Homo sapiens: one gene and its partners. The protein of the gene in region 4 purifies or fractionates together with the protein of the main gene of each other region. This does not show direct contact. Each region holds a gene or a part of one and is shown on either strand. Other genes may lie near its edges.

Region 1 (7,770 bases), on a different chromosome or scaffold from region 4:
AGTGAATTTGGGGCTTCCCTCAGTTCTCAGGAGACACATAAAGGAGCTCTATCTTTGGAACAGTGTGAAACACTATACTTTCACTACACTGTCCAAAAGCAGATTTGCTAGGCGATGGGTCAGATGATCATGTAAATATTAATATATCAAAAGTAGATATATTTTTACCTGGCTATTTTTAGACTAAAAGTCTAAAAAAACTGGATAGTCAAAGGAAAAAAGCCAGAGTACCAACTGAATTCAATTTAAAAACAAAGATGTCAGACATGCATCTTCGTGGCATAATTTGTTCTGGGTATACCTTCGCCCTCGTGGAGGAAACGGAAGCAGAGGCAGCATCTACAGAGGATGTGGAAGGCAGCTGAGGCACTTCCATTCCTGTGAGAATCCTATTTTGCAAAACTGGATATTTCAGATAACTGGAAGGAGGCCAAAGTTACAAAATACTCCCTGCCGAAAGGGCCTCCAGAGGCCTGTCAGACTTTCCCCATGACCTATCCAGCTCCTCTGCTGTCAGGGCAGCAGTTGCACATCCCAAGTTCTAGGCACGTGTCTGCATCCACAGCTGTGTGACGGAGTTTGTTTTGTTGGTGGTGGTTTGTTTTGATAGGGTCTCACTTTGTTGCCCAGGCTGGAGTGCAGTGGCATGCAAGGCTCACTGCAGCTTCTATCTCCCAGGCTCAAGGGATCCTCCTGCCTCTGCCTCCCAAGAAGCTGGGACTACAGGTTTGTGCCATCACACCAGGCTAACTTTTTTATTTTTAGTAAAGACAGGATCTCACTATGTTGCCCAGACTGGTTTCTAACTCCTGGGCTCAAGTGATCCTCTGCCTCGGCCTCCCAAAGTGCTGGGATTACAGGCATGAGCCACTGACCCTGGCCATGGCCATATGTGAGTGACTTTGAGCCAGACAATTCAAGTCTCTGGGTCTCATTTACTCAGCTGCAAAATGATCACAATGAGATGACTATCTCCAAACCTTCTCTGATTCTTTAACACAAACCCAGAATTTTAAGAACAGACAACAGAGGCCGGGCACGGTGGCTCACCCCTGTAATCCCAGCACTTTGGAAGGCCAAGGCAGGCGGATCACCTGAGGTCAGGAGTTCAAGACCAGCTGGCCAACATGGTGAAACCCCGTCACTACTGAAAATACAAAAATTAGCTGGGCGTGGTGGCAGGCACCTGTAATCCCAGCTACTCAGGAGGCTAAGGCAGGAGAATCGCTTGAACCCGGGAGGCAGAGGTTGCAGTGAGCCAAGATCGCACCATTGCACTCCAGCCTGAGCGACAAGAGCGAAACTCCTCAAAAGAAAAAAAAAGACAATGGCAGCCATTCCCACCCCCACCCCATGGCTGTAATTCCAGATAACTGAAGATACAGACAACTAGTGTCCCATTACAGCAGAACTGCTCCTAACTCAGGCAGTACCAACTAACAAGAAAGTGAGGAAAACAGTTTTACCAACGTCTCTGTAAGGCAATTAACAAGGCAGAAATTTCAGTTCTCCATCTGATAAAAATATCCGGGGATGTCACACAGTAATCTGGTGAGCTCCAAGACCAAAATTACATACCCAGGTCTTTGACAAAACGTTTCATGTGCAGATTTAAAGGATGGATGACAGAACCTCCTGCCTCGTATTCTTGCCCCTGCACCATCATGGTAGCCAGGCGGCCCCCGACCTCTTCTCTTTCAAACAGGTCTATCTTCACATCTTTCCCAAATTTCTGCCGCAGGTAATAGGCTGCTGAAGTGCCACCAATTCCGGCTCCAATAATCGCTATGAGGGAAAAAAACAGAAGATTATATTTTCCCCTTTTACCAGCTCTGTGAGTTGTTTTGTTTTTGAAAGACCATCAATAGCAGAGGTTGTTACTCAAAGCTATTACCAACAATTTGGTGGGGGAAGAGTGACACCTGCAGCGAAGGTCTAACTCCCTGAATCTGGACAGACACTGTTCCCAGACAAAAGCAGTAGATTAATTAACATATTGACATTAACTCGATTTTTTTTCCAGATGCCCAAAGATTCTCACAGGTCTTTATGGAGGAACCAAGGGGCCTGCACACCCTTCCAGATGCCCAACTCACGGGCACATTAGAGGTGGACCTTTCCAGCACGCATTTTTAATAAAGTGACGGCCATTTATGCCTAGCTTTGTTGTGTCTAGATTCAATGTAGATAGGTTAATGATACCGAAGAACACAACTTTAAAGGGGGGCGGGAGGGAGACAGGAAGCAAAGAGCCAAGGCTCCTGACACTGGAGCTCTTGACAGTGGAAAGAGAACAGATTCTTTCTGCAGCTGTGTTAGTCCTAGGCGGAGAAACTGTGCAAGCCAAGGGCCTCTGAGAGCAGGCCGACCTCAGCAAAGCGGAGCTGGGGGAAGGCGGTTCAGCCTCCCAAGGGAAGCAGGCAGGGTCAACTTGTTTGCACTCCTCCCTGTGCTGTGCCTGCGTGAGCCTGTTAATCTGGCCGGGCGCCCCAGGTCAAGCCAGAACACTGGAGTCTTCACGGTCAGTGTTCAACGGGAAGATAGAGAAACCTAGGCCTCCCCGGAGCCCCACACCTAAGAGACAGGGGCTACAGGTACGCTAGGCGCCTGCCTGCCCGCCCGCCCCTGTCCCCGTCCACGCCCATTCCTCAAGTGGGCACCTCTCCACGCCTGGGAATGCACAGTCCTATTCCGACCAGAGCTGAAAGCCGCCCTGAAGTGTGAATGGGGGAAAGCGCGACCTGCGCAGCTGGCTCGGCCTGCACCGCTGGACTGCGTCGCGGCTGTGGGATCTGGGCGCACTGCGCAGCGGCCGCCCGGCGCGGGGCGCGCTCCAGCACCTTCCCGCGCCGCCCCCTTCTCGCCTACCGATTTTATCTGGCGGAGCACGCAGCTCGGCGCCCTCGGGGCATCCGCAGCTGCACAGCAACAGCCACAACCCCAGCAGCGAGGAGACGAGCTCCGCGACGACGCGCCCCATGGCCTCCACAAGCTCTGCAGCTGGCCTCAAGAGCCCCGCAGTCCTCCCACCGCTGCGCGGCTGCGCGCTCCGCCCAGCCCCGCCCCCAGGCCGCCCAGCCCCTGCGAGCCCCGCCCAGGTCCTGCGAGCCCCGCCCCGACCTCGCCCCGCCGGTCCTCTCAACCCTGCAGGAGCTCCCCACTCTGGGCCACTCAGTGCCCTAAGCACATCCTGCCGCCTCGAAGCCCACCCTCCTTCAGAAGACATCGAAGGCAGAAGCTGGCCGGGCGCGGTGGCTCAAGCCTGTAATCCCAGCACTTTGGGAGGCCGAGGTGGGTGGATCATGAGGTCAGGAGATCGAGACCATCCTGGCTAACACGGTGAAACCCCGTCTCTACTAAAAATACAAAAATTTAGCTCGGCATAGTGGCGGGCGCCTGTAGTCCCAGCTACTCGGGAGGCTGAGGCAGGAGAATGGCGTGAACCCGGGAGGCGGAGCTTGCAGTGAGCCGAGATTGCGCCACTGCACTCCAGCCTGGGAGACAGAGCCAGACTCCGTCTCAAAAAAAAAAAAAAAAAAAAAAAGGCAGAAGCTGAGGCTCGCCTCAGCTCTCCTCCTCCTTCCCTATCTATTTGGGTGAAGCACCTTAGTTCTTCACTAGTACCCTCTTCTGTTCCCTCCGTCGCTCCTCTCAAAGAATGCGCACAGCTAATCGCTGCCAGAAACAGACCAAAGGGACAACAGTACTTACTGAGTGATCACCCTGTTGCGAGAACTGTAAGGTTCTCCGTGAATGGGTAAATGGTGCTAACTGTAAAGAAAAATGAGGGAGACTGAGGATGGGGTGGCCCAAGGTGAAGGGGGTGTAATAGTAGTAACAGACATGAATAAAAGTAGTGTACCTGTAAGGACACCAGAATGTGCCACCCCAAAATACGCCTCTTTAGCCTAAGGATTATTTCAAGCCGAAGACAATTGAGAAGATGTAGATACGATGTAGATACGTGGGTGGAAAGTTCTCCGCCTTCCCCATTTGCCTAAAAGCAGGACATAAATTTTATTTTTTTAACAATTTTTAAATATATTGCATTTTATTACATAAAAGTAAAATTAGTAAAATAATATAATTTGATATACTTTATAATTTATAATTTCTCTCAGTATAATGTAGAAAAGTATTACTCTGAACACTTACTTTTTTTTTTTTTTTTTGAGACGGAGTCTCGCTCTGTTGCCCAGTCTGGAGTGCAGTGGTGCGATCTCAGCTCACTGCAAACTCTACGTCCCGGGTTCAAGCAATTCTTCTGCCTCAGCCTGTAGCTGGGACTACAGGCACCCGCCACCGTGCCTGGCTAATTTTGTGTATTTTTAGTAGAGACGAGGTTTCAGTGTGTCAGCCAGGATGGTCTCGATCTCCTGACCTCATGATCCACCCGCCTCGGCCTCACAAAGTGCTGGGATTACAGGTGTGAGCCACCGCGCCTGGCCATGAACACCTACCTTAAACATTACTTAATTTAGGCTAACTACAATGAGCCTCGCTACTTATATTTTTATCATGCATCTTACATTTTAATGTCCTTACTCTTTTATAGAAAAGGTCATAAAGAATGCCCAACTAATAAAGAATCTCTAATATCTCTGATACAGCAACAACTGATCACATACTTTCACATGTGAATACAATAGAAATAAAGTAACAGCATAAAGTAATTTGAAAGCTGTATTATATTATTATTCACTTTTCAAAAAATTGTTTTCAAGGAAACAAATATACTTTCAATGTAATTACAAAGCTTCAAAAAAACTCCTTTTAAAGTTATATACAAATAATTTAACAACTTTAATTGTGAATTCATTTTTATACTCAACACTCCTATTTAGTGTAATGTCTGAAGTAAAGCAGGACATAAATTTTAAAAGGCAAAGGTATCCCTCTTCCCACACTGCCTGGAAGGACAAAGGTTAATCACTAAAGACAATTTTACGCCTGTTAAATAAAATTCATAGGAAGCCATTGGTTTGGACTGAGCTCCTGCACTAGACTAGGCCCAACAGACTAAACCAAAATGGAGTCACTCAAGTCACTCATGTTCCACATCACAAGGTCAAAACTAAGTTGTCGATCTGACTTTCTAAGAAATCAGGAGAAAGAAAAATAATAGCCAAATTCCCGACAGACCAGTTTGAAGTGACATGATAAGGAAATACCCTCTGCTTTAAACTTTTCAAGGAAAGTAACCTCGAAACAACCAATGCACTTTTCTGTTTCTGCTTTCTTCAGCCCTTTCTGAAAGCCAACCTCCTCCACTCAACTCATAGGAACACTCATTCGATTTTATAAAATGAGGTGTTGCACAATTCTACAATCGCAACTAAAAGCCAATTATGCTCTTTAAACTAAATTAGTTGTAATTTTGTCTTTTGACAAACCTTTATCAGCCAGGAATCTACATGACAAACTTCATTAATGAGCCTTTTTCTATCGCGTATTTGCCTTCCCATAATTTGCCACCCCTAGAGACTCAAAATCATTTTCCTTCTCTTAACACTTCTCTTTTTTTTTCTTTCTTTCTTTTTTTTTTTTTTTTTGAGACGAAGTTTCGCTCTTGTTGCCCAGGCTGGAGTGCAATGGCGCAGTCTCACGGCAACGTCCGCCTCTCGGGTTCAAGCAATTCTCCTGCCTCAGCCTCCTGAGTAGCTGGGATTATAGGGAAGCGCCACCACACCCAGCTAATTTTGTATTTTTAGTAGAGATGGGGTTTCTCCGTGTTGGTTAGGCTGGTCTCGAACTCCCGACCTCAGGTGATCCGCCCACCTCGGCCTCCCAAAGTGCTGGAATTACAGGCGTGAGTCACTGTGCCCGGTTCTCTTAACACTTCTCTAAACATATACTGTTCTTTTTTGAAGATGCTGTATAATCCTGAATTCAAAGCTACCTCTTGGAGATTTGCTCATTTCCCTGGTCTCTCTTTTGAATACGTGACGTACATGTTTTTAAATTTCTGTTTTTCTTTTTTTCTTTCTTTCTTTTATTTATTTTGAGATGGCTTCGCTCTGTCACCCAGGCTGAAGTGCAATGGCACTATCACGGCTCACTGCAACCTCTCGCTCCTGGGCTCAAGCGATCCACCCACCTCAGCCACCAGAGTAGAGTACCTGGGACCACAGGCATCCACTACCATGCCCAGCTAATTTTTACATTTTTTGTAGAGATGGTTTTTTGCCATATTGCCCAGGCTGGTCTGGAACTCCTGGGCTCCCAAAGTGTTGGGATTACAGGCATGAGCCACCATGCCTGGTCCTGTTTGTTTTCTTCTTGTTAATCTGTCTTTTGTTACAGGGGTCTATCACAACCAAAACCTCGGAAGGGTAGAGGAAAACTCTTTTTTTCTCCCCAACATACCATACAATAGAACATTATGCATGCATTAAAAGGAAGCCAGGCACGGTGGCTCACGCCTGTAATCCCAGCACTCTGGGAGACCAAGGCAGGCAGAATATCTGAGGTCAGGAGTTCAAGACCAGCCTGGCCAACGTGGCAAAACTCTGCCTCTACTAAGAATACAAAAATTAGCTGGGCGTGGTGATGCATGCCTGTAATCCCACCTACTTGGGAGGTTGAGGCAGGAGAATCACTTGAACTTGGGAGGCCAAGGTTGCAGTGAGCTGAGATTGCACCACTGCACTCCAACCTGACAGGCTGATCTCAAAAAAAAAAAAAATTACAAAAAAAGAATGTTGGAGCTTGGCGCAGTGGCTCACACCTGTAATCCCAGCACTTTGGGAGGCTGAAGCAGGCAGATCACCTGAGGTCAGGAATTTGAGACCAGGCTGGTCAACATGGTGAAACCCTGTCTCTACTACTAAAAATATAAAAATCAGCCAGGCGTGGTAGCGCACACCTGTAATCCCAGCTACTCAGGAACGCTGAGACAGGACAATTGCTTGAACCCAGGAGGCAGAGGCTGCAGTGAGCCAAGATTACGCCACTGCACTCCAACCTGGGCGACAGAGTGAGACTCCGTCTCAAAAAAAAAAAAAATGGGTCTATAACTAATGTCCTAGTATTATCAGTTGAGAAAAGCTTGTGGTTGCATGATGGGTATAAAATGATCTCATGCCTCTTTTCCTTTCTCTGCCATCGTGGTGTGTTCTTGACTCCACCCTCACCATGTCTTCTCACAAGACTTTCAGGATTAAGTGATTCCTGCCCAAGAAACAAAAGCAAAATCGTCCCATTCCCCAGTGGATTCGGATGAAAACTGGAAATAAAATCAGGTACAACTCCAAAAGGAGACATTGGAGAAGAACCAAGCTGGGTCTATAAGGAATTGTACATGAGATGGCACACATATTTATGCTGTCTGAAGGTCACGATCACGTTACCATATCAAGCTGAAAATGTCACCCCTATCTGGAGAGTTCGACGTGTTTTCCTCTCCGAATCTGTTATGAACGCATTGGTTGGCTGGGTTCAGTAATAAATATGTGAGGCCTTTCATTTAAAAAAAAAAAGTCTCATTTCTGTAATTACAATACTTCACCCAAACAAACAAACAAAAATAACTAGTACATGAACATGAAGAACAATATAGATGAGAAGAAAATAGGTTGGATACAAAATAAAGTTAAACTTGGAGAAAGAGGCTGGGCTCAGTGGCTCACACCTGTAATCCCAGCACTTTGGGAGGCTAGGGCAGGCGGACGATTTGAGCCCAGGGTTCGAGACCAGCCTGAGCAAAATGGCGAAACCCCGTTTCTACGAAAAAATACAAAAAAATTAGCCTGGCATGGTGGTGTGCACCTG
Region 2 (7,021 bases), on a different chromosome or scaffold from region 4:
ATGAAGTTTCAGAATGCATTGTGGTAAGCGCCAATCAAGTGATGCTTCTAACTCTAAGTAAGGGCTGAAAGCATGAATATACCATTGTACTACAGGAGAGAAAAAAAATGCTTTTGATGTGCTAGCAAAAGGAGACTTTTGTAAACAAGTGGAGCACAACTTAAATGTGTTCATCATTGTCAAATCATCAGGGCTGCCACGTACAGAAAGCACATTCCTTCGTAAGCTGAGAAGAAATCACCTGCTCCCAATAAAAATATTATGAATAGACAGAAAATAAACATCTAAAATGCAGACGTTTAAATAACAACAACAACAACAACAACAAAACCCAGTGCATTTTGTAACTCCTTATTCCCCTAGTGGCAAGGAATGGCCAGATCACTAATGTGTTTGTGAAAGACTGAAAGGAAACATAAACCCCAATTCTTCTGGCTGTTTGGCGTCTTTGTAAACTCTGAGCCAGCCGGCTATACACAAGAGCCTGGGAATGGAGGGGGAAGCTGGGCCTTTGTTGGGGCCGGTGCCATGGTGTTGTGTGTTGCGCAGCTGAAGAATGCAACTGAAGAGCATTCTGCCTGCACTCTGCAGCCCGGGAGCCAAAGCTGCCTCTAACCCCTGGAGGAAGTCATGATTGGCTATCAATTGGCTCTTCTGTAACAGCAGCCAGCCCTGATAAGAAGCCTCAAGAGAAAGCCAAAGATGATTGGTTTGGAGTTTGGGTTTTCTTCTGGCTGATACGAGCCACGGAGGCCCTTGTTTGCGGGATATCTGACTGGCTCCTGCCTCCTGCCAGGACCTGGCTGGTGTCCCCGCCAGCAATCCCAATACTAAATTCCCACTGGCAGCAACATGCGACATTAATAGGGTTGGCCCTGAGTCAAATGAGTGTTAACACAGCTACAGTATGTGATGGAGAACAAGTTGCATAGCATAATTTATGATTCTCCAGAAACTGACTTTTGTTGGTGGGGGCAAGGGAGGTATTTGGTTTATATTTCCAAGTGAAGGTTTCATATAAACCAGCGTCTTATAAAACCAAGTTCTAAGGTGTTTTAACTATTTGGATCCATCCTGATAAAAGGCTGACAAGACTTCAACATTTACTAAAGGGTCTCAATTCATGGCCAGTTGCAGATGCAGTTAAGAGAGGAGAGGAAGAGCATGGCAACAAGAAGACGGATTTGGAAAACCAGTTCATCCTTAGTCTCTTAAAGGGTCTAGTCCAACTGCATTATTTCAGTGCTCAAGACACTGGCACTGAGTTTCCCCCCATACCCCCAGCAACAAAGCATCCCCTTCTCACTAGGGAAAGCGATTCCTTTTGCATTGTGCTGCCAATAATCAGAAACCCACATCTTCAGCCTCCCGACCTGACTGGAAGAACAAAAGGCAGTTTCCCGACTTAACCCCAAGATCTGATTTAAAGAAGGGGGAAAAAGCCCTTGACCATTCATTAGCTGCAGTCATTTAAAGGGGAAAGAAAAATTCCTTGCAAACAGAAAAAAAAAAAAAGAGAGAGAGACAAGAAATAAAAAAAGAATTTACAGCAGAGGCATGTAAATTGGGACTGAATTCTACAACCACAAAGCAGATTAATTAAACCCTTGTGAAAAATTCATGAAAAAGCACTGGAGATTAACAATGTCTATTACTCCTGGTCTTTTATATCTGCTTATTAGAAATAAAGAATAGTATACCCATTAAAAACAAAGTTTAGATACAATTATATACCTCATCCCTCCAAAAAGTTATCACTTAAAATAACTAGGGAAAAATCGATTCAGAAATCCTATCAACTTCTACTTGGGTTTGTTTCTTCAAAGATAACAAATGTAATTTTAAAAATGCCCAACAAGAACAACAACAGCAACTTAAGTCCTCTTTGTTTTCGAGTAACTGATTTAAAACATCAATAAAGAAAGCCAGAGTGTGGTTTTGATTTGATATGGACCTGTAAACTCCAGGAAAAACACGTAGGAGCATTTGTATTTTAATATAAGGATATGAGTTTAGTTATAGTTGCTGCTAGACATGTTAGAGTATCAAAATAGTGGCAAGGGCCATGCCCTTCTGCATTCCATTCCCAATGTGTCTGTAGAAAAGTCAGCAGAATTCGATCACTGTCACCATACACTTTTTTGTACCATATGGCAAATTCTACTACCTTGCCTGGAGAAACAGTGAATTATAGGGGCAATTGAAAAGGATCACCAACTTTCTTTAAAAATTCAATTTTGCAAAAGTGAACTGCAAACTTGACATTTGGGTGTGGGGATGAGTGTGGGATTAAAGAGAGAGAGAGAAAACAAAAACAGCGACTTTAGATCTGGAAATTCTATGGGTTTTTACTTCCATGAGAAATATTTTGAATCAACAATTTCTCCCATGGCTTCATTCTGGGCATGATGTGCCATTTGGCCTGTATGTCTTTGCTGGTCTTATGCCTTCCCTTTCATGAGATTCTGCTTTTCTGTGTGTAGAAGATTTTTTCAGGTCTTCTAGCTTTGAGCTATTTAGGCTACAATTGTGCTGAAGTGCTTAATATTCACATCTTTTTTTATCCCCCTGTGTCAGTGTTCTTAAGAATCTGTTGGAGCCAATTTATTGATGCACTTTCAAACGGAGTTAATATGGTAATTAGCTCTCACACAGACTAAAAAGCATTCCCCAACATTAACACCCCTCACCTCCCCCCAAAAAACCAAGCCAGAATACTGCATACATGTTCCCATGATTTGGACAAATAAGTGAAAAACAGGTGCTTATAAAGACACTCAAATTCGGCAATTATGCAAAGGTGACTAGGGTGGGGAAAAATGTGAGTTTCTTTTTGTGAGCTGTTAGTATGTGTGTGCGGTCCTACTAATACTCAGCATAAGGAACTTCAACACTGGTTACTGTTGCTTCAGGCATCAAGGTAATTGACAACTGGACATTTAAATTCTCCTTAATTTGTCCTTTCCCCAAAATCATAACTAACCCTCTCTGCAATTGGCCACTTCATTTACATTGCTGTCTGGGTTCTGAGAATGGTTTTCTAGGTGGAATATATATGCAGGAATATGTATCCCTTAAATTCTCAGGGCTAAAGTCCTTCCACTCTCACCAGAGCAGACTACTACTGCTAAATGGTGTACAGAAACAGAATCCCTGAATTTCTCAATCAGATTTCACCTGATCCAAATAACAAATGCGTATCTGGCCGGTTTGCAGAAGATTTAGTTGCAGTGTAATAGATATAACATTTTAAAAGCCACTTTTACAACTCCATGAGGACTGTACTCCAGCATTTACATGGATACAAGCCTATAATCATAAACACAACTGACTTTCAGGCGGGAAATATCAAAAAGACACTTTCTCAGTGAGTGGCTCATGCCTATAATCCCAGGGCTTTTGGGGGGCTGAGGGTGAGAGGATCGCTTGAACCCAGGAGTTTCAGGTTACACAGAGCTATGATTGTGCTGCTATACTCCAGCCTAGGTGACAGAAAGAGACTCTGTCTCCAAGAAAAAGGCATTTTCTCATTATTAAAACCTGGCAGCCACTGTATCTATTACCTTCAGAAATGCCACCATTAGTTTGAGGGAACATTCACTTGCAGTAATGTTTTTACTATTCTCAAAGTAGTTGAGCGTAGTCAGGATTCTGACAAACACTAAATAGCAAACACTTAAACAAACAAATTTCATAGCTGCCAATTACAACATTCCTTGTGACTGGAAGCTAAGCTATCTCCAGCAACACAAATATGTTAACCACTTGCTCACCTATGAAATTGTTCCATTCAAAATCGAGATCCCCTTGGTTGGCCAAACAGCCTCTCATGATGTTTGAGCAGTAGTTGTAACATGGCTTCACAGTCACGAGACCCCGGCAGTGGGAGCAGTAGATCATCTTCAACAGGGCATGGGTACACTGGGCTGTGGGGTTTACCTAATGTGTGAAAAGAAAAAAAGACAGTAGTGGCGGGGCTAAAATAGAGACAGAAATTGCTTCTATCACATTGACACTGAAGGCTTGGCCATGAACTTAAGAATGAGTTGTGATTGATCACAATTAGTAAGCCTGGACTGCCTCCTGAAGACATAGATTAGATAAAAGATACATGTTGGGACAGGGGAGAGGAGGGAGATGACCCAAAACAAACAAGGTGCACCAACTCCCACCCTGTAAACACCCATTCCTCCCCCACCCCCTTCCCTCCTGGAGTCTCTCTCTCACACACACATAAATTGCTCAATTATCTCAAAATCCTTTTACAAATAACTATGCAGGGTGAGCCATGAGATGCAGTGGAGGAGACTATCTTCATGTGCCCACCATGCACGTCCTGCTAATAGCCTCAACCATCAGTGTTTGTCTTTGCCAGACTGGAACAGAAGCACATCTTCTTCTGCATTACATTGACTACAAGGCTGTCCTTTGAACCCTAACCCCAAATTAAGGTTTAGAAGGGTACCTACGGTGTCTTCTGTTCTGTGCCAAGAGCTGTGCAGAAGGCAAAGTTAATATATTCTACAAGGCAGAATATGAGTAATCTTAAACTTAGGGGGTGTGTGAAGGTTTTCCAAGGCTTGGGAGTACTAAAGCACAGAGTGTTCACAGAACACTTGATGAAAGAGGTGGGGCTTTGGTTAAATTTTCGAGAAAGGGGCTGGACTTAAGTGGTCAAACAAAGGGAGAGCATCCTGAGTTAAGTTCAATGAAATGAACAAAACCTGTAGGAGAGTACAGGACATGTCACTGCATCTCAGAATGGGGTTGGGGAATTGCGGGAAATAAGGTCAGGTGCACAGGAGTATGCGTGTGGCCAGAATTTAGAGGGGCTTAAACATCAGGCAGAAACTGGGATACCAGTTGCCAGGCACGGTGGCTCACGCCTGTAATCTCAGCATTTTGGGAGGCCGAAGTGGGCGGATCACAAGGTCAGGAGTTCGAGACCAGCCTTGCCAGCATGGTGAAACCCCGTTTCTACTAAAAATACAAAAATTAGCCGGGCATGGTGGTGTGTGCCTGTAGTCCCAGCTACTCAGGAGGCTGAGGCAGAAGAATTGCTTGAACCTGGGAGACGGAGGTTGCAGCGAGCCGAGATCTCACCACTACACTCCAGCCTGTGTGACAGAGTGAGACTCTGTCTCAAAAGAAAGAAAGAAAGGAAGAAAGGAAGAAGGAAAGGAAAGGAAAGGAAGAAAGAAAAAGAAAGAAAGGAAGAAAGGAGAAACAAACAAACAGGGACACCATATGGCAGGACACATGGGGCTATGACTGGAAGTTTGTGAGGAAGGAAAGGAAGAAAGACAGAAACATTACCCAAGTCAGATTGGGCTGGCTGTCCTCTCCAGAGAAATGGGACTTCATTTCATCTAGTTTTATAAAGTGAAATTATTTGGGGTGTAGAAGAGCTGATTCCATCCGGTCACTTGTTTTCCTCAATGCTTAGAAAGGATTGGGGCTAGGTATAGCATTCTAGCAGCTAATTAAAAGTTCCTGTCTCCTCTTTCTCTCTGCCCCACCCTCCTCTTTTGGAGTCAGTATCAGAGGATTAGTGCATTCTTCTGTGTAAGTACCCACCAGTTCTGCTAACACAGACTTTTGGAGGCAGATACCACCACAGGGAAGAGATGCTGGGATGCAGGGCAGCCCGGCAATGCACTTCACCTGCTCTGGAGTGTTACTTTGGATATCACTTATCAGCAGTGCCCTTAGGAACAGGAACAGGGGATTAGTGGTGTCAGGAGAAAAAAAACAGTCAGGCTCCTACGTGATGCATGTGCACATCCATTCCCCTCATCCCAAACAAGGCTCTAGCCTAAAAGGGGGGAATACGTGTAACAATAAAATGGTAATTGTATACACTGCCCTACCAAGAATTAAGATTTTTCCACAGTTTTAACCATTCCCAAATGTTTTCCTAGGCACTAAATTAGTCCTAACTATGTATTAATGTACAGTAAAATTTTGGCTAACCAATATACCCTGGAGGAATGGCCTTTTCTGGATAGCCAGATTTGCTGGACAGCTGAAAGTTCATTCCTTTAAAGTCACAGATTGTTAAGACTTCCCTACATGTCCCCCTCTCCTTTTGTAAAGGAGCAAACAGGACTGGAGGGGGGAGGTGGCCTGAGAAGCATAGGATCACAGAAGTCTTAGAGTTGGAAGGGACCAGAGAGATCACTGAGTGTTGCTCTCACATTTGATAGATAAGAAAAACCAAGCCAAAGCCAAAGAGATTAAGCAACTTGCTGACAGTCACCTCACAACATCGGATTCCAGTACTATACCTTATCAAGCATTTGTGATGAAAAGATTTCCCAGATGTATCACGTTTCCCTGCCAGATGACAGGAAACTGTAATCTTAGGCACTGGTTATTTCCTACTTTAGTTTTAGTTGGGTTCCACATTGATGAGACTGCAAAATGGCTAGATTTTAAAGAGGTAAAAGTTATGCAAGTGGCTATGAAATGAAAAATCACTGAATAGCACGTGGCATTTGTTGAATATTATGCTTAAGAGGAGACAATGCCCTCGTAAGAAGAAACGTAGAAAGCTAAGGGGTCAACAAATAGTTACTGAGCACCTACTATGTGCCAGGGATTATTCTGGAATGCATTTGAATTTAGGTAACAAGGCAAGTTAAGAATTTCTATATTAGAATACAAAACCTGTTCTACAAAATACAAAGCAATTCCAATGTGGTACAGGACTTTAGGAAATGAGCAAAAATTTTAGACCCAAAATAGTTATATTCAGAAAACACTTCTTTTTTCAAAGAAGTCCTTTCTCATTCTTTTAAAAAATAACTCTAGGAAGTGGTTCATTGTATTCTTAGTTCAATTGCAAGTCAAATCATTTATGCAACAGACCTTGTAGTACCCTCCCCTAAAATAGGCTGATGGAGGCTCAAGTTTTAAAAAGAGACCAAACTAAATGACACAGTAGAGTTTTATTAAGGGAAATTATGATGCTGAGTTTGGCAGAGTTCTTCCATTTCATTATTTGGCTAAGTGCTGGCTC
Region 3 (7,021 bases), 3.9 Mb from region 4:
AGAGCTATAGGAGGACCTTTTATATATATCTAATTTTTATTTATTTGTTTGCTTATTTATTTGAGACAGGGTCTTGCTCTGTCACCCAGGCTAGAGTGCAGTGGTGTGATCATAGCTCACTGTAACCTCAAATTCCTGGGCTGTTCAAGCAGTCCTCTTGCCTTAAGCCTCCTGTGTAGCTGGGACCAAAGGTGCACACCACCACATGTGGCTAATTTTTATTTTTATTTATTTTTTATTTTTGAGATGGAGTTTCGTTCTTGTTGCCCAGGCTTGAGTGCAATGGTGCCATCTCAACTCACCGCAACCTCTGCCTCCCGGGTTCAAGCAATTCTCCTGCCTCAGCCTCCTGAGTAGCTGGGATTACAGGCATGCGCCACCACGCCCGGCTAATTTTGTATTTTTAGTAGAGACGGGGTTCTCCCTGTTGGTCAGGCTGGTCTTGAACTCTGGACCTCAGGTGATCCACCCGCCTCAGCCTCCCAAAGTGCTGGGATTACAGGGATGAGTCACCGCGCCCGGCCTCATGGCTAATTTTTAAATTTGTTGTAGAGATAATGTCTCACTATGTTGCTCCGGTTGGTCTTTAATTCCTGAGCTGAAGCGATCCTTTTGCCTTGGCCTCCCAAAGTGCTGGGATTACAGGCCGGAGCCACCGTGCCTGGCCAAGGATCTTTCTCAAATGAGAAATGCCTGCAGGCAGCTTTCCTTCCCCCTCAATATACTTAAAGAGCCTCCCCAATCCAAGTGACACATAGAGAGATGGGCAGATAAGATGTTAACAGATACATTAGACAAAGCATGCAGCCTGTTCTGGCCTTGGCTTAACCCAAGATTTCATTGCCCTCCTTTCCTCATTCCTTCTGGCCCATTTCCAATTATTTTCTTATTCCAATGATTCTTCAAGTATGATTCCTGGAGCAGTAGCATCAGTATCTCCAGAAATGGAAATTTTTAGAGCCCATCCCAGTTCCACTGAATCAGAAACTCTAGGGGTGGGCCCAGCTACCTGTGTTTTAACAAGTCCTTCAGGTGATTAGAATGCATGCTCAAGTTTGGGAATCACTGTCCTAACCATTAAATTGTACATTAGCCTTAGGGTAAGAGCTGCCAGTTATTAAGACATCCATAGAGATGAGATAAACTACAAATGAGGCCCCCGTCTCAAAGACCCTCCAAAAGTCAGGGCAGAGAAAGGGAGCTTCTTCTCCCAGGCCAGCTGGTCTGGCCTAAGCCCTAAGCTGCTGCCCTAAGCCCTCTATATCGCAGGAGACAACAGGTGGGCTAGGGCTATGGATACTTAGCCAGGCAGGTGCCTTGAGCCTACTAGGACAAAAAAGCAATAGACAAGGCAGAACCCCAGTCTTCCACACATACTCTGACTTGAGGAAGCGAGCAGTTTTGATGATCTGTTTGGTAGCTTCAACATAGCCGTTCTCACCGAAGTGCATCAAGGCAGCCCAACAGGCTGCGCTAATGCCACCAGGCCGTGAGCCTGCGATGGTTGGGGAAGCATAGATGCCACCCTGCCAATCTGTATCGACGAAGAACTGATAGTTCCTGTACTTCTTGTCACTATACAACACCAATGATGAGCCTTTTGGGGCATAGCCATACTGTGGAAGAAGTAGCAGACAAGAAAAGTGAGAGTATAGTTCTGTCTGGCAGACCTTGTCCCAGAACTCTCATCATGCAAAGGAAATCCTATTTATTTCTCAGTTTCTCTGTTATGTTTCCCACTCACATTAAGGATTCAAACTTAAAATGCTAAAGGATAGTAGGAACTTAAGGGATGGAGTTTAAATTCTCTCTGTTAGGAATGAGGAATCTGAGACCCAGGGAAGAACAGCGCCCAGTTAATCGGTTTACTCCCTCTCTTGCCCAGCATGTGGTTTACCTTATTTAAAATATTTCTCTGGAGACCATATGTCAGGATGAAAGCAAGGGTAAGTTTGCAATGGAAGCCAGGAAAGGATGGAATTTGTCACTTCAAGTTAAAATCACCATCTGACCCCCTTCCCATCTTTTTTTGCTTAGTATTACTAAGAATATTATGCTTATGAGAACATAATGGTGCTCAGAAACTAAAAGCTACTTAATCCAGCTTTAAAATTAACTATGTAACTGGTTTCCTTATAGAACATCTGACCCCCTAATTAACTCTTATTAAAACTAACGTGGAACTAATTTCATTACCTGAACCATCCAGAAATGGATGGTTATGGGAAAAGGACACAGGAGCTATCTGGATGGTAAGGAAAAAACAGATGCTGACTGAAAATCGGCTGCAGATCACACCGATTTTGAAAAACAAGTCTTTAATATACTTGAGTTTAAAACAAGCTCTGAAAATGCAATCAAAACAAGGTACACATTCCTGAGGCTGCTAATACTTCTTCCACATCTGGATGTATATTCAATAGCGTTATCAACTGATCTAGACTTTGTCTCAGTCCACCAAGGGTGGCAGGCGTGGCCATCTCAAATGCTGAATGTTCCTGAGCACACAGGTTCTTCCCATTTTCCAAAGGACTCTTCCGTCAACATTTTCCCGTCATGTACGCTCAGGAGCCCAGTTGCACAGCAGCTCTAATGTTATCTACCAGCATGGGAACTCCACTACCAACCCTCACACTCCTCTACCCTCCACCTCAAATCAGCTCAAGGCTTCAGGGAGCTTTTTTAACAAGGGCCACTACACTAGCATGTTCTAGTTACACACAGTCAGTGGATACAGAAATTCTCTTAGCCAATTTGAGATAAAGGTAACAGGTTCATTTTCACTACTGCTTGTCACCTCTACCACTATACCCCATCACCTGAACCAGCTGATCTGGTGACGGCAAAGAGAGAGTTTAAAACAAGCATCTGATGAGAATTCTATAGTTAATTTTATACTTTGCGGGGAAGCTACCAATTTATTTTATCAATAATAGTCAAAATAATCAACTGGTAACACTTGATCTCCTCCTTAGCTCACCTTATGGGTGTCAGCTGAAATGCTGGTTACACCTTTCACCCGGAAATCAAATGGGTGCTCCAGTGGGTATCCTGCTTTCTCCATAAAGACGATGAGGAAGCCTCCCAGACAAGCGTCGACATGAAGGGGTATTTTGTATTTGACAGCCAGCTTGTTCCAAAAAACAAAGAACATAAGAGAATTTCCTTTATAGCCCTATAATAAAAACTGCAAGACATGGGTGGAAAGATGGGCTATAAACACAAGGCTATTTTGTATTATGCCTCCCATGTTTTTAAAAAATGGCTATTTTTAACATTCCCAACAAAATTTATCTTTCAAATGTATTTTCCCTTCAAAATAATTCATCTGAAATATGGTATCAATTTTATATTTAAATATGCATGACCTCAAACGCTCTGCGGTATCAAGCAGGAAATGAGTAGAGCTCTGATTTAGGCTGCCTCTCGCACAAGGGAAAGGTCCTGCCTCAGTCACTGCAGGATGAGGCGTGAGGGAAAGGGAGGCGCTGAGGGGCAGCATGTGGAATATCACCCTTTTGGTGGGCACATTCCTACATGCAGATTATTTCCAGATCTCAATCTAGAAGGCAATCCTATTTCAGAATTTCCAGTTTAAAAGGCCTCAGCCTTGTACTATCTTCCCCCACAGCAGAGACTAGCAACTTTTAAAGGCTTGCAACTGAGCTGCAGGGCTTCCCCTAGGGCTGATGAGAGCTACTTATCACTACTGTGGTCAAAAACAAAAAAAAAATCGCTTCTATTTGCCAAGTACTGCCCCATTAGGCTTTGTTTTAAAATATCCATTTGCCTGCCTTAGCAGCCCATTTCTCTCATATACCTTGGCCACTTCAGGGACAGGATCTATTACACCATGAGGAAACTGTGGGGTAGAACAGACGAGCATGGCAGTGTTCCTGGAGATAGCTCTTCTCATTGCCTAGGGATTTAAAGTTTAAAGGAAAATGAGAATCTATGTCACAATTACTCTTCTCTTCTGCTGCCAAGAGCAATTTGGGCTGCTAGCTTAGAGTTCCAGTTCCACCAGTACCCCCTCCTTCACCACTCCAACTGGGAGAAGACTGCATCCCACCACGGTGACAGGACACAGGTGACTCCAGGTAAGTCCATTTGGAGAATAGTCTGAGAGCACAAAATAAGAACAGAATCGCTGTGGGGGCGAAAATAATATTGAGCTAAGAGGCCAAAGAGCCAAATGTGAGCCCCAGCCCCACAACGTACCAGCAGTGAAACCCTGAGTATGCTACTTCAGTCTGTTCCTTATCTGTGAACTACAATAATATAACAGCTTCATCAACCTCTCTGGAATGTCATAAAGCTCAAATGGGATTCTGACAGAACACTGAAACTAGAAAACTCCTCTACACAAATGTGAGGCATAAAAATAATCACTATCATAATGACAATGGTATTAATTTAAGCCAATCTAAACCACAGTGAGAGTCTTTTTTTTTTTTTTGAGACAGGGTCTTGCTCTGTCACCCAAGCTGGAGTACAGTGGTGTGAACACAGCTCACTGCAGCATCAACCTCCTGGGGCTCAAGTGATCCTCCCACCCCAGCCTCCCGAGTAGCTAGGACTACAGGTGCATGCCACCATGTCCAGCTACTTTTTTAAATTTTGTGTAGAGATGGGGTCTCACTATGTTGCTCAGACTGGTCGCAAACTCCTGGGCTCAAGGGTTCAAGTAATCCTCCCTCCTCGGCTTCCCAAAGTGCTGGGATTACAGATGTGAGCCACCATGCCCGGGCCATGGTAAGAGTCTTAGGGGAAGTGAGTCCATGTTCATTTTACAAATAGAGAAAAGAAAGAAAAAGTGATGGCGCTGACCGCAAAACCAGTGTCTCTCAAGTCCCAAGTTAGTGACTAGATCACCTCCCTTTCAGAATTCATGAACCTATGAAAAGACTGAAGCTGCAGTCAATCACCACTATCAATGCAGTTTTTCATATTCTGGCTGCCACAATCAAAGGCAGTCAGACCCATCTGACTGGAAACGGCTAGTCAACAGGAGGGCCCTTCTGCTGTCAGGGCCCAGCACAGACAGTGGGCCCTCCAGAGGGACTCACCCGCACATCCACCTCCATCATCTTCGTCAATGGGACCCGCACAATCTTCATCCCAAAGTAACTGGCTGCTTTGTTAAATGCAGCATGGGCACTTTGGGGAGCCACACTAAATGACAGGGAAGAGGAGAATAATGTAACTCAGGCCAAAATAATAGAAAACACCATTAGCAGCTAATCTAAATTACCGGGAGTAAGTTCTGATTATTTTTCCCCAAATTAAAAATTTAAGTGTTTAGACTGCTCTACTTTTCTTTTTAAGCACACCCAAAAAGAGGCCAACTGATTTTCTGCAGAAACTTCCCTCCTATTTAGGAAATCATTCTGGCAATAGGAAGAGGACTCAGAAGTGATCCCACAGTGAGGGATCCAAAGCATAAAGCTAGGCTGGCAGGCGGAAAGCTGGGGGACAGAGACTTTGGATGAGAGCAACACAAGGCAGAGCTGGCTAACGGTTGCCTACCAAAGACAGGCACCTCAGTGAGAATGAGAAGAAGGCTTCCCGGCACAACACATGTTCAAGCAGAAATGTTCACACAGCGGCCAAGCATCAGCTCAGTGGCCCCTTCCAACTCTGAAAGACAACAAACCTGAAGAAACTAAAATCCCCATTTCTCCTACACATTTGGAAATAGTATTTCAAATAGTGTTGAAAGAGAAAATGAGGTCACGGGTATTTGCTTTAGACTTTCCTCAACTACTCCATTCATACAACGAATCTGTTCCCTCTAAGGAGAAAAATCTCTACTACTGAGGAAGTACCAAGCACCAAAGATCGACATATGAAGAAAGAATGGCAGCCTGGTTTATTCTCTTATGCTACATATGAACCACAGCATGAGACCATATGCAATAAATCCCCATTGTCAAGTAATACTTGCAGTAAAAATATTAAGATGTAGGATAAACATACTGTACAAGGGGACAGTCTAGGAAAAAATAATGTAACTAAACATCAAATTTATGTCCAAGGAAGGCAATGTGGGTAAATCTCAAAAAGATATTTTTATTCTTCCTCCCAGAAAACAGCCCTCACACTAAAGTTTTCCCAGAGAGTACCCTGAGGCAGCCTATAATATTAAGTAACTTTCTAAGGTAAGCAGAACTAAAGTACCTAGAGAGGTTTCTTTAGGCTCCAAATAATTTGCAAATATCACAGGATTCAAAGATGTAGTCCTCAAACTCTCACTTTTGGAAAAAGGATCTTATTTTTGCTTGTAGTATATACTATGCATGATCTGGGGGTGGGGCGGGATGGGAATGATCTTTAAAAATAACTGGCTGATCCATTTAGAATTTTACTGAATGTAAAAGGATAAGGGCAGAGGGGCTAGGACAGGGGGAAAGGGGACCAGAATTACCAGAGGAAGAGAAGCAGCAGGAAAATGGATTATCTGCTTTAGTTTCATAAAGCTGTACTCCAGACAGACAAATCCAAAAGGGGACAAAACAGCCACACATACATACATTTCTGGAGTTTTGATCCCCTTCTCAAAGGCCAGATCCCGATATGCTTTGCAGGCCATCAGTATGCTTTCTGTTCCCCCAGAAGTCACCTATAATAAAGAAGAGATGCCATCTGTTGGGGGAGTCAGGAATGCCCCGGCTCTTCATGCCCTGATCTTGACAATGTTTGATACAGAAACAGATAAGGTCTTGGATGCATGCTGCAAGGCAGACACTGCCATGTCTTCCAGAAGGAAAATTTGGCTTTATTGGCTAAGCCTAATTTTGGCTCAGGTGAAGAATGAAAGCTACTAAATAATGAGCAGAAACTCAGCACTGCCTAGACAAATGCACACTTGGCCAGATCCCACCTATTCACAATCCATTTACATTTCTGTATTAATTTTTCAATTTTCAGATAAGATAGGGCATTTTATGCCATTCAAAAATATCAGAATTTTAATTTAAATTTTCAATACCTGTTAAAGAATGTGAAATTGTGATTACAA
Region 4 (8,009 bases):
TGTAATTCAGACACCTCTGGAAACTGCTCAGGGTGCTGCTTTAACCTAGCACCATCTTTTGATAGTTTCCTGCAATTTTCTTTTCTAAGTCAGGCATTGGTTTAAAGGCTCTGCCTGTCTGTAAAATGTTCCCATAACTGAGTCATCTCCAAGAATCAGCTCAAGCTCCGAGCACCTGGAATCATTCACCTCTTTCCTTGATTTGCCAGTGAGGTGCAAACCTTCTATAACTGTAGATTTGGTCCCACCAGGAGGCTAACAGCGAATGTGGGGGATTACTTATGAAAGAAGTTTTATCTTAAAACAAATGCGACATTAATGGAATCAGTAAAGGGTCTTATACAATAGGTATTATATTAAACCGGAGTTCAAGCTTCACATTGATTGTGGTATTTAAATTTCAATGGGTTGATTATGTATGAGAGGAAAATGACCAGTATTATGAATGCACTAAAACGGACAAGGAAGGATCTTGCCAGCAAAGTGAGAGGGAGAGGGAAGGGGAGGGGGGGCATCGCGTTCCCTTGATAGTCACCAGAGTTCAATAAAGCACCACTTATTTCCCAGCTTTTAAGAGCTCTTTTTATCACAATGGTTCATACCTCACACTCCCTGGAGCCCGATTTGTTATAGGTGCAGGGTCCCGTCCCATTCAGCAGCATCTCGCTGGTCTCCGTGTTGGTGGGTTTATAATCTACATAAAATTCCTGGGTGCTGGGAGTCATTTGCTTTAGGGACTGTCTTTTCTTTTTCCTGTGCCTTCGCATGAGGGAGCGCTGCTGCAGCTGCTTCATGCTCGCAGGGTACCGCTTCCATGACACGTAGATAACCAGCAGGATGACGAGCACGGACAGGAAAAGCGCCACGCTGCCCGCGATGATTTTATGGAAAGAGATGTGCTCGGCGTCAGCATCGGTCTCTGGGCCGGGCTCTGTGGCTCCCACCGTCGGGGGCAAAGGGGGTTTGCTCTCATGCTTCGGCCTGGGGAGCTTGGGCTTAAACGTCGGCTTTGGGAGAGCCCTGGCCAGATCAAACCTCTCTGTAGTACTTTTGCCACAGATGCTGTAGTTCTTCACTGCATCGATCACATTTACTCCTTGCAGCTCTTTGGGACTGGCACAGATAATTGTATTCTCCCTTAGACCTTTAAAACTTTTCAGCCAGTTTACAAGGGAGCAAATATTTCTGCTGCATTCCCATATATTCCCAGCAAGACTGATGTCATTGAGGGATATCCAAGAATCCAAAATCTCTTGACCAATAAATGTGAGCTTGTTGGAATCCAGGTTGAGGCGCTGCAGATTCGGGACACACTGGAAAACACTGGGTCCACTGAAAGCTTCGATCTCATTGCCTGATAAATCAAGCCTTTGTAAGGAGCTCCAGGTCCAGGACATGGTCTGTCCTATGACACTGATTTTATTCCACTGCAAGTAAAGGTTCTGAAGGCTGACCAACCTTGGAAAAAGGGCCAGGTTGAGCTTGGAAAATTGATTGTGCTCCAGGTGAAGTTCTTTGAGTCTGATCATGCCAGCAAAGACATTCCTGGCTAAACTTCGGATCCGGTTATATCCCAGGTCCAAAAGTTCCAGGTTGCGGCAGTCTTGGAATATTCGCACAGGGATGGTTCTCAGGGAGTTAGACCGTAAATGTAAACTCAGCAGCTTCCGCAAGCCCCGAAACTGTTCAGATCCCAGAGAATGCAGCTGATTATAGGACAGATCCAAGTTCCGTAAATTTGTCACAGGTCTGAAGGTATTGTTAAGAAAATAGGAGATTCTATTGGAACTAAGAATCAGCTCTTTGAGTCTGCGTATTCCATTAAAAGCATTTTCGTCAATATTGCTGATATGGTTATGGTCAAGGTATAGCCAGGTGAGCTGGTTGAGCCCTTTAAATTGATTATACTTAAGTTTTTGAAGGCTGTTATAGCGAAGGGACAAACCTAAGCAACCAGCAGATATACTTGAGGGTATCTCCTGTAATTTCTGAGATTCACAATATACCATTTTGCCTTCACACCTACAGCCCTTAGGGCATCCTCGTTCGGCAGAAGAAAGCATTGTCAGTAAGACAGTGGGGGCTATAACCAGTGCTACAGCTGATCCGCTCAGTAGCCTAATTACATTGAAACCTGGAAATAAAAACAACTTAGAAAAGTTATCCCCCCAAAAAAGAATTAATCCTTAATCAAGCAAAAATAGGCATATATTTTTCATTTTTAAAAATTTAAATCTAAATAACACTTAACATCACATATTATCTCTTTGTAATTAAAGAGAATTGTCTTTAGTGTTTTGTTTTTTTAAATAGTTAAACAAGGAAACATGCCACTAAGCAAATAAATTCATAGTCTTAGAGCAGAGCAAGGTAATCTCTAAAATAATTAAGGCAGAATTATTACACACACTAGAGGTTTTTTGTTTTTTGTTTTTAAGAAGGAAAGAAGAAAAATGACAAAACATACCCATCCTTTGTATTGTTCAAAGGTCGTCCTTAGGTCTTTTGCTTTGGCTTAGGGGCCAGTTGCATGACAGCCCCTGTCAGCTGCACTGTAGTGAGTCAGGGCTCGCTGACACCCAGGAAGAAAAATTGGACCCCTTGGGAGATGGACCGATTTTGGAACATTATTCTTTGCCAGCCACGCAGAACACTCCAAGAACAAATAAATCCCAACACCGCATTCGCAGCAAAACATCAAAATCTTCCTAGGTAATAGGATCTTCATGGATATTACGTTTTTGCATCTTTACAGTTTTTTGGGGGGTGGGGAGGGGGCGGTTAAAAAAAAAACTGGATCCTACAATTTCTTCTTATCGAAAAACATGATGTATTCTTCCAGGCAATTTGGGGCTACCTGAGCTGCCACATCTGTATTCCATACCCCAGCAGTTCCCGTGATGAGCACCCAGTTCAGCCACAGAGCTGCGTTGGAGCCCAGAAGGCAGGAGAGCCCCGTACCGCGCACACGCTCAGCTCACTTCTGCAGACTGTCATTCTGAAAGCTGCTCGGACTGTTGCTTTGGTTTCAGTGAATGCAGTCTTATGTAAAGCTGCCCCCAGTGGTGAAGAACATTATGGGCATGTGCAGAAATGTCTCTCTTTTATCTTGCAAATGAGCAGGCTCTCTGCTGGAAAATGAATGATTCTTTTGGGTGGCTCAGTAGGAACTGAATGGTCACCGTGATCAATAACTAGCAACATTTTCTGTGATTTCCAAGTCTTGTTTTACAATTTGGCAACGTCTTTATTGTCTGTGTCCACTTAATTGCTAAACATGTGCTGCCCAGAGTTTTTCTGGAGCTTGACATTAAGTTCACAGACCGAACGTCAATTTTTCTTAACCTCAACGCAGGCTTTAAACTGAAATTTATAAAATGAATTATTGAGCTTTTCACAGAGAAGCATTAACTGCCTGCCCATTTGACCTCTTGGAGTCACAGTGATTATATTATGCAAGGTGTCTCAGGATGTTAGAACACAAACATTTTGGAATAGAGGGGATGACTGATGACAAGTGAATTAATGTGTCCAATAGCCTTTCCGGTTTTCTCACAGACGATATAATTGATTTTATGGCTATAGTTTCGTTTGTTGTTTTGGTTGTTGTAATTCTCTTTTAATTAGAAGGGAAATAAACCATTTTTAGTGTTAGGATACGAATCAAGAGATCATTTGGTTCATACTTTATTGATGTTGCTGCTATTTATTACACTAATAATATTTATGGAGCACTTTCTAAGTGCTTTAAATGGGCTACGTTGTTTTCTCTTTAAACAATAGTATGATGTGGGTCCTATTATAACCTCTCTTTTAAAGATGAGGAAACAGACTTGGGGAGGTAACTTTCTCAAGGTCATACAGCAAGCGAGTGCTAGAGCTGAGCTTCAGAAGCGAGTCATTCTTATGCCGAACCACTAACCACTAGATGATCCTGTTCAACAACATTGTTATCTTCATTTAAAAAAGAAGTCAGTGAAAATGAAGCCGATTAAAGGATTGGGGCAAGGAAGCTGTGATTAGCAAATTCTTGCTTGTTCTATTAGAATTGCCTAAATTTCTTTTGGTCTGAGGTTCCTAAAGAAGTATAAAAACTAAGGCAGCGTAGTTTAGTGATTAACAGCATAGATTTTGGCACCTAGATTCCAACTCCTGGCTACAATTTACCAGCTATGTAACCTTAAGCGCGTTACTTACCTTCCCTATGCCTCAGTTTTCTCATCTGCAAAACGGGCATAAAAACAAAAACTCACTTCATGTTTTGAGAATTAAGTCATTTTAATATCTGTATGTTACTTAGAACAGTGTGTTGCATGCAATAAGCCTGTGTAAGATATTTGAATAATATTAACTTTATTTGTACTTGCTAGGATTACGTACTGAATATTGACTATACTGACCTTCATTAACTCACAAAGAACAACTTTAGTGAGCATTTTTAAATATTGTACATGGTGGATTTCTGAGATTTACTCAGTCTTGCCTTCTTTGATGAGATAACTTCCTTTATGTTCATCATCTGAACTTTATCTTTAAAATAAATCTTCTGGTTCTGTGGATCATGACTAATAATGTTCGATTCTTTTCATCTCCAAAGTAGAACATAATAACATCTGCCATGTAGAGGCATTTTATTTAAAAATAATGGTATTCTTGAAAAAGTTTGCCTTGTTGTTTTTTGTTAGGTGAACTGTCTGTGGAAAACCGTGGAGAGCTTTCACATTCTCCAAGGATGAGATGTTTGATAAAGGCTAGTAATGACAATCAAAAGGGGTCCTACAGATATAGTACAATGGATATTACCAATTCCTTGGGCAGTATGTTCTTAATAGGGCAGTGCTTTCCCCCAGAGTTACCTAAGCTGTGAATGCACATGAAACATCCAGTGAGTTTCTTAAAAAGATAGACTGCCCAATCCCTCCCCCAGGATTCTCATTCTAGGGGGATGGAAGAGTGTGTGCTTTTCAATAGTCTCTGATGAAATAAGTTTAAGAAACTCACTGTGAAGGAATGATTAAAAATAATATTTTCTCCTAGTAGGAAGAGAGGGTTTGCACACTTATAATACTGAGATGTAAGTTCCACAAGGACAAAGACAATGTTTTGTCTACTTCATTTTTCCTAATATCTACAACAGCACTTGGCACATTGCAGACATGCAATAAATAGCTATTGAAAAAAATATGTTTTTATATCAGTCACAAGTACAATGGATATAGTATAACTGATTATGTAATGTTCAACATTTGTACATGGGATTGAGTCCTGAAAATTTCCTCAGTCAGTGAGACTGGAAACAATTTTGGAGAAAGTATTCTTAAAGGAGGTATATACAAAGACAAAAACTAGAAAGTGAGAAAACTTAGTTGATCAGAAAGTGATCTTTACTTTTCACAGATATCTTGTCTTCATAGTTAAACTACAAATTTCATGAGAACAGTAAATATGCTTTTGACTATTCTCCTTTGCACAGCACAGAAGGGTAATACTGAACCCTTATCATTTAATATCCCAAATGGGCTTGACAACTTGTATCTCTCAAAAACAGACTAATGAGAATTATATTGATAACTTCTCTCTCACACCTCTGTTGCTTGAAAGGCTCTGAGTTTTCCCCTCACTCTCCCACGTAGTCATTGAGACATCTGTTTTGCCCAAGAGCTGCAGAGAGCCACTCCAGGAGGCTGGAGGACCCATTAACTTTGTGCTTCTTGCTCATCATACTTTACTTCCCATTGACAGAAGAACAGAGGAACCCACTGAGAATGTGGGCTCTCACTTTGCTTTTCCTGGGATAAATCTTCTTGAATTATTTACGGTGAATATTATTCTCTGCTGTGTTACACACATTGCTCTTAGTTTTCAGACATTTTTCTTTTATCTTGGTTCCTGATCTTATCTTACTGCATAGTTCTGACTTTACACCTACCCTTTGGATCTTATGATTAATATTTATTTAGTCTTAATACTAACAACTGAGGGTATAAAATATTAGAGTGAGTAAATAAGACCTAGTATTGGCTAGCACAATGGGGTGACTATAGTCAATAATGAATTAATTGTGCATTTAAAAATAACTAAAAGTATAATTGGATTGTTTTTTATACAAAGCGTAAATGCTTAAGGGCATGGATACCACACTTACCCTTATGTGATTATTACACATTGCATGCCTATATCAAAACATCTCATGTACCCCATAAACATGCACACTTACTATGTACCCACAAAAATAAAAAATAAAATAAAAATAAAACAAAACTATATGACAGGAATGATGTGCTACAACAAAAATTGCTTTGGTAGCAATGTATTGATTGACAAGGAAAAATGTTCATAATGAAATAATATTAAGGAAAAAAATACTGACCATCAATCTCTTTCTCAACAGTAATCAGTAGCCACTCTTGGACTGAGTCAGCCTCCAGGAACTGTGTATGGCCCCTACTTTGGCACGACCCCTTAAGTCGGCATCACAACCAGGTCTGATCTGGTTCAGGATAATAAATTGTTTGAAGAGGGAAGATTATCCATGAGGCTAGTTGAGAAATCCAAAACAAAATAATGTGATTCTAAGCCACACTGAATACTTGAGGCTGCAGAAGTTACTGCAAAGACATAGAGTAGTCCCTCAAGAGAAAAAGAAAAGACTGTGTTCTAAAAGATTTTAGTAATTTGCCTGTATACTTTTTAAAAGTTTTTTCTCCTTTTACTTGTCGACTATAGCGAGCTGATTATTTCTGATTTGCCTTTCAGCAGAAGCAAAATTATATTGCATTATGTATTTAGAAACTAGCAACTTCTTTTGCACTTAATATCGCATACAGAACAAACCGTAAACTACCTGACGAGTTAAATATCCCCAATGCATCCAGGGCCTTAATGATTTATACAATTATAAAAATAGTGTCATGTATCTAAAGACTTTTTATTTTATTGTGCTTATAGGACTTCAAATAGCTAAACATATTTTGTTTAAATTGGGTAAATAAATCAAATCTCAGTTTGGCAATACTGCCAAATTTTAGTCCAATATGAAACTGAGTTGCCAGATATAAACTTAGAAATTCATAACTGAAAGAGAATGGACTGATATCTTAACAGTTGTTGACTTCAGATATTTTATTTATTTTACAAATATTTAATTTGAATAACCATTGTGTGCTAAACACTGTTCCAGACACTGGGAATACATCTGTGTGCAAAATAAAGGCCTGTACCCTTGTGAAGATTACATTCTAAAGGGATAAGACAGACAATTAAAAATAAACATATACAGTATATTAGTAGGTCATATGTACTATGAAAAAAAAGAAAAATATAAGGAAGATTGGGAGTGCAAGGTATGAGGTGGGCTGAGTTTTAAATAGGATGGTTAGGGCCATTAAGAAACTGGCCTGAGCAAACCTTGAAGGATATGAGCTTGTGAGACTTAAATGTATATATGGGGAGTGGCCAGTGCAAAGGCCTAATGTGGAAGCAGATCATGTGTTCCATGAACAACAAGGAGGCCAATGAGTCTAGAATGGAGAGACCAAGTGATAGAATAATTGGAGATGGAGGTCATGGAGGGCTTTGGATGACATTCTAAGAATACTGGCTTTATTATGGAGAAAACGGGGAGCTAACTGGAGATTTTTGTGCAGAGTTAGTATGTGATCAAATAACCTATTAAAAGGATCACTGCTGTGGATCGGATGTTCTCATTTACCGTCCCCAAAAGCCATATATTGAAACCCCAATTCCCAATGTGATGGTATTTGGAGATAGAGCATTTGTGAGGTAATTAGGTCATGGTATTGGAGCCCTCATGACAGATCAGTGGGATTATAAGGATAAAAAGAGACAGAAATGAGAGAGCTTGCTTCTTCTCTCTCTCTGCTACAAGAGAAGGCAGCTATTAAGAAGCCAGAAATCAGGCTGTCTTTGACATCAGGTCTTCTGTTACCTTCATTTTGGACTTCCCAGCCATTAGAACTGTGAGAAATAAATGCTTACTGTTTAAACCA

The links.
Region 1: the proteins of LRRTM3 (region 4) and PCYOX1 purify together in Homo sapiens (co-immunoprecipitation; 2 studies listed by BioGRID and IntAct, with this or other methods). This does not show direct contact.
Region 2: the proteins of LRRTM3 (region 4) and GPC4 purify together in Homo sapiens (co-immunoprecipitation; 2 studies listed by BioGRID and IntAct, with this or other methods). This does not show direct contact.
Region 3: the proteins of LRRTM3 (region 4) and SGPL1 purify together in Homo sapiens (co-immunoprecipitation; 2 studies listed by BioGRID and IntAct, with this or other methods). This does not show direct contact.

Annotation. Positions count from the first base shown.
Region 1 is NC_000002.12:70,253,375-70,261,144, reverse strand, and holds the start of PCYOX1 (prenylcysteine oxidase 1 precursor), read right to left. Parts: upstream 3,009-7,770; 5' UTR 2,981-3,008; coding exon 2,869-2,980; intron 1,786-2,868; coding exon 1,579-1,785; intron 1-1,578. UniProt on the Homo sapiens protein: Prenylcysteine oxidase that cleaves the thioether bond of prenyl-L-cysteines, such as farnesylcysteine and geranylgeranylcysteine. Only active against free prenylcysteines and not prenylcysteine residues within prenylated proteins or peptides.
Region 2 is NC_000023.11:133,307,485-133,314,505, forward strand, and holds part of GPC4 (glypican-4 precursor), read right to left. Parts: intron 3,940-7,021; coding exon 3,774-3,939; intron 1-3,773. UniProt on the Homo sapiens protein: Cell surface proteoglycan that bears heparan sulfate. May be involved in the development of kidney tubules and of the central nervous system.
Region 3 is NC_000010.11:70,867,946-70,874,966, reverse strand, and holds part of SGPL1 (sphingosine-1-phosphate lyase 1), read right to left. Parts: intron 6,623-7,021; coding exon 6,534-6,622; intron 5,176-6,533; coding exon 5,070-5,175; intron 3,920-5,069; coding exon 3,821-3,919; intron 3,131-3,820; coding exon 2,981-3,130; intron 1,617-2,980; coding exon 1,378-1,616; intron 1-1,377. UniProt on the Homo sapiens protein: Cleaves phosphorylated sphingoid bases (PSBs), such as sphingosine-1-phosphate, into fatty aldehydes and phosphoethanolamine. Elevates stress-induced ceramide production and apoptosis.
Region 4 is NC_000010.11:66,921,046-66,929,054, reverse strand, and holds the start of LRRTM3 (leucine-rich repeat transmembrane neuronal protein 3 precursor), read right to left. Parts: upstream 3,020-8,009; 5' UTR 2,472-3,019; coding exon 2,468-2,471; intron 2,135-2,467; coding exon 603-2,134; intron 1-602. UniProt on the Homo sapiens protein: Exhibits a limited synaptogenic activity in vitro, restricted to excitatory presynaptic differentiation. May play a role in the development and maintenance of the vertebrate nervous system.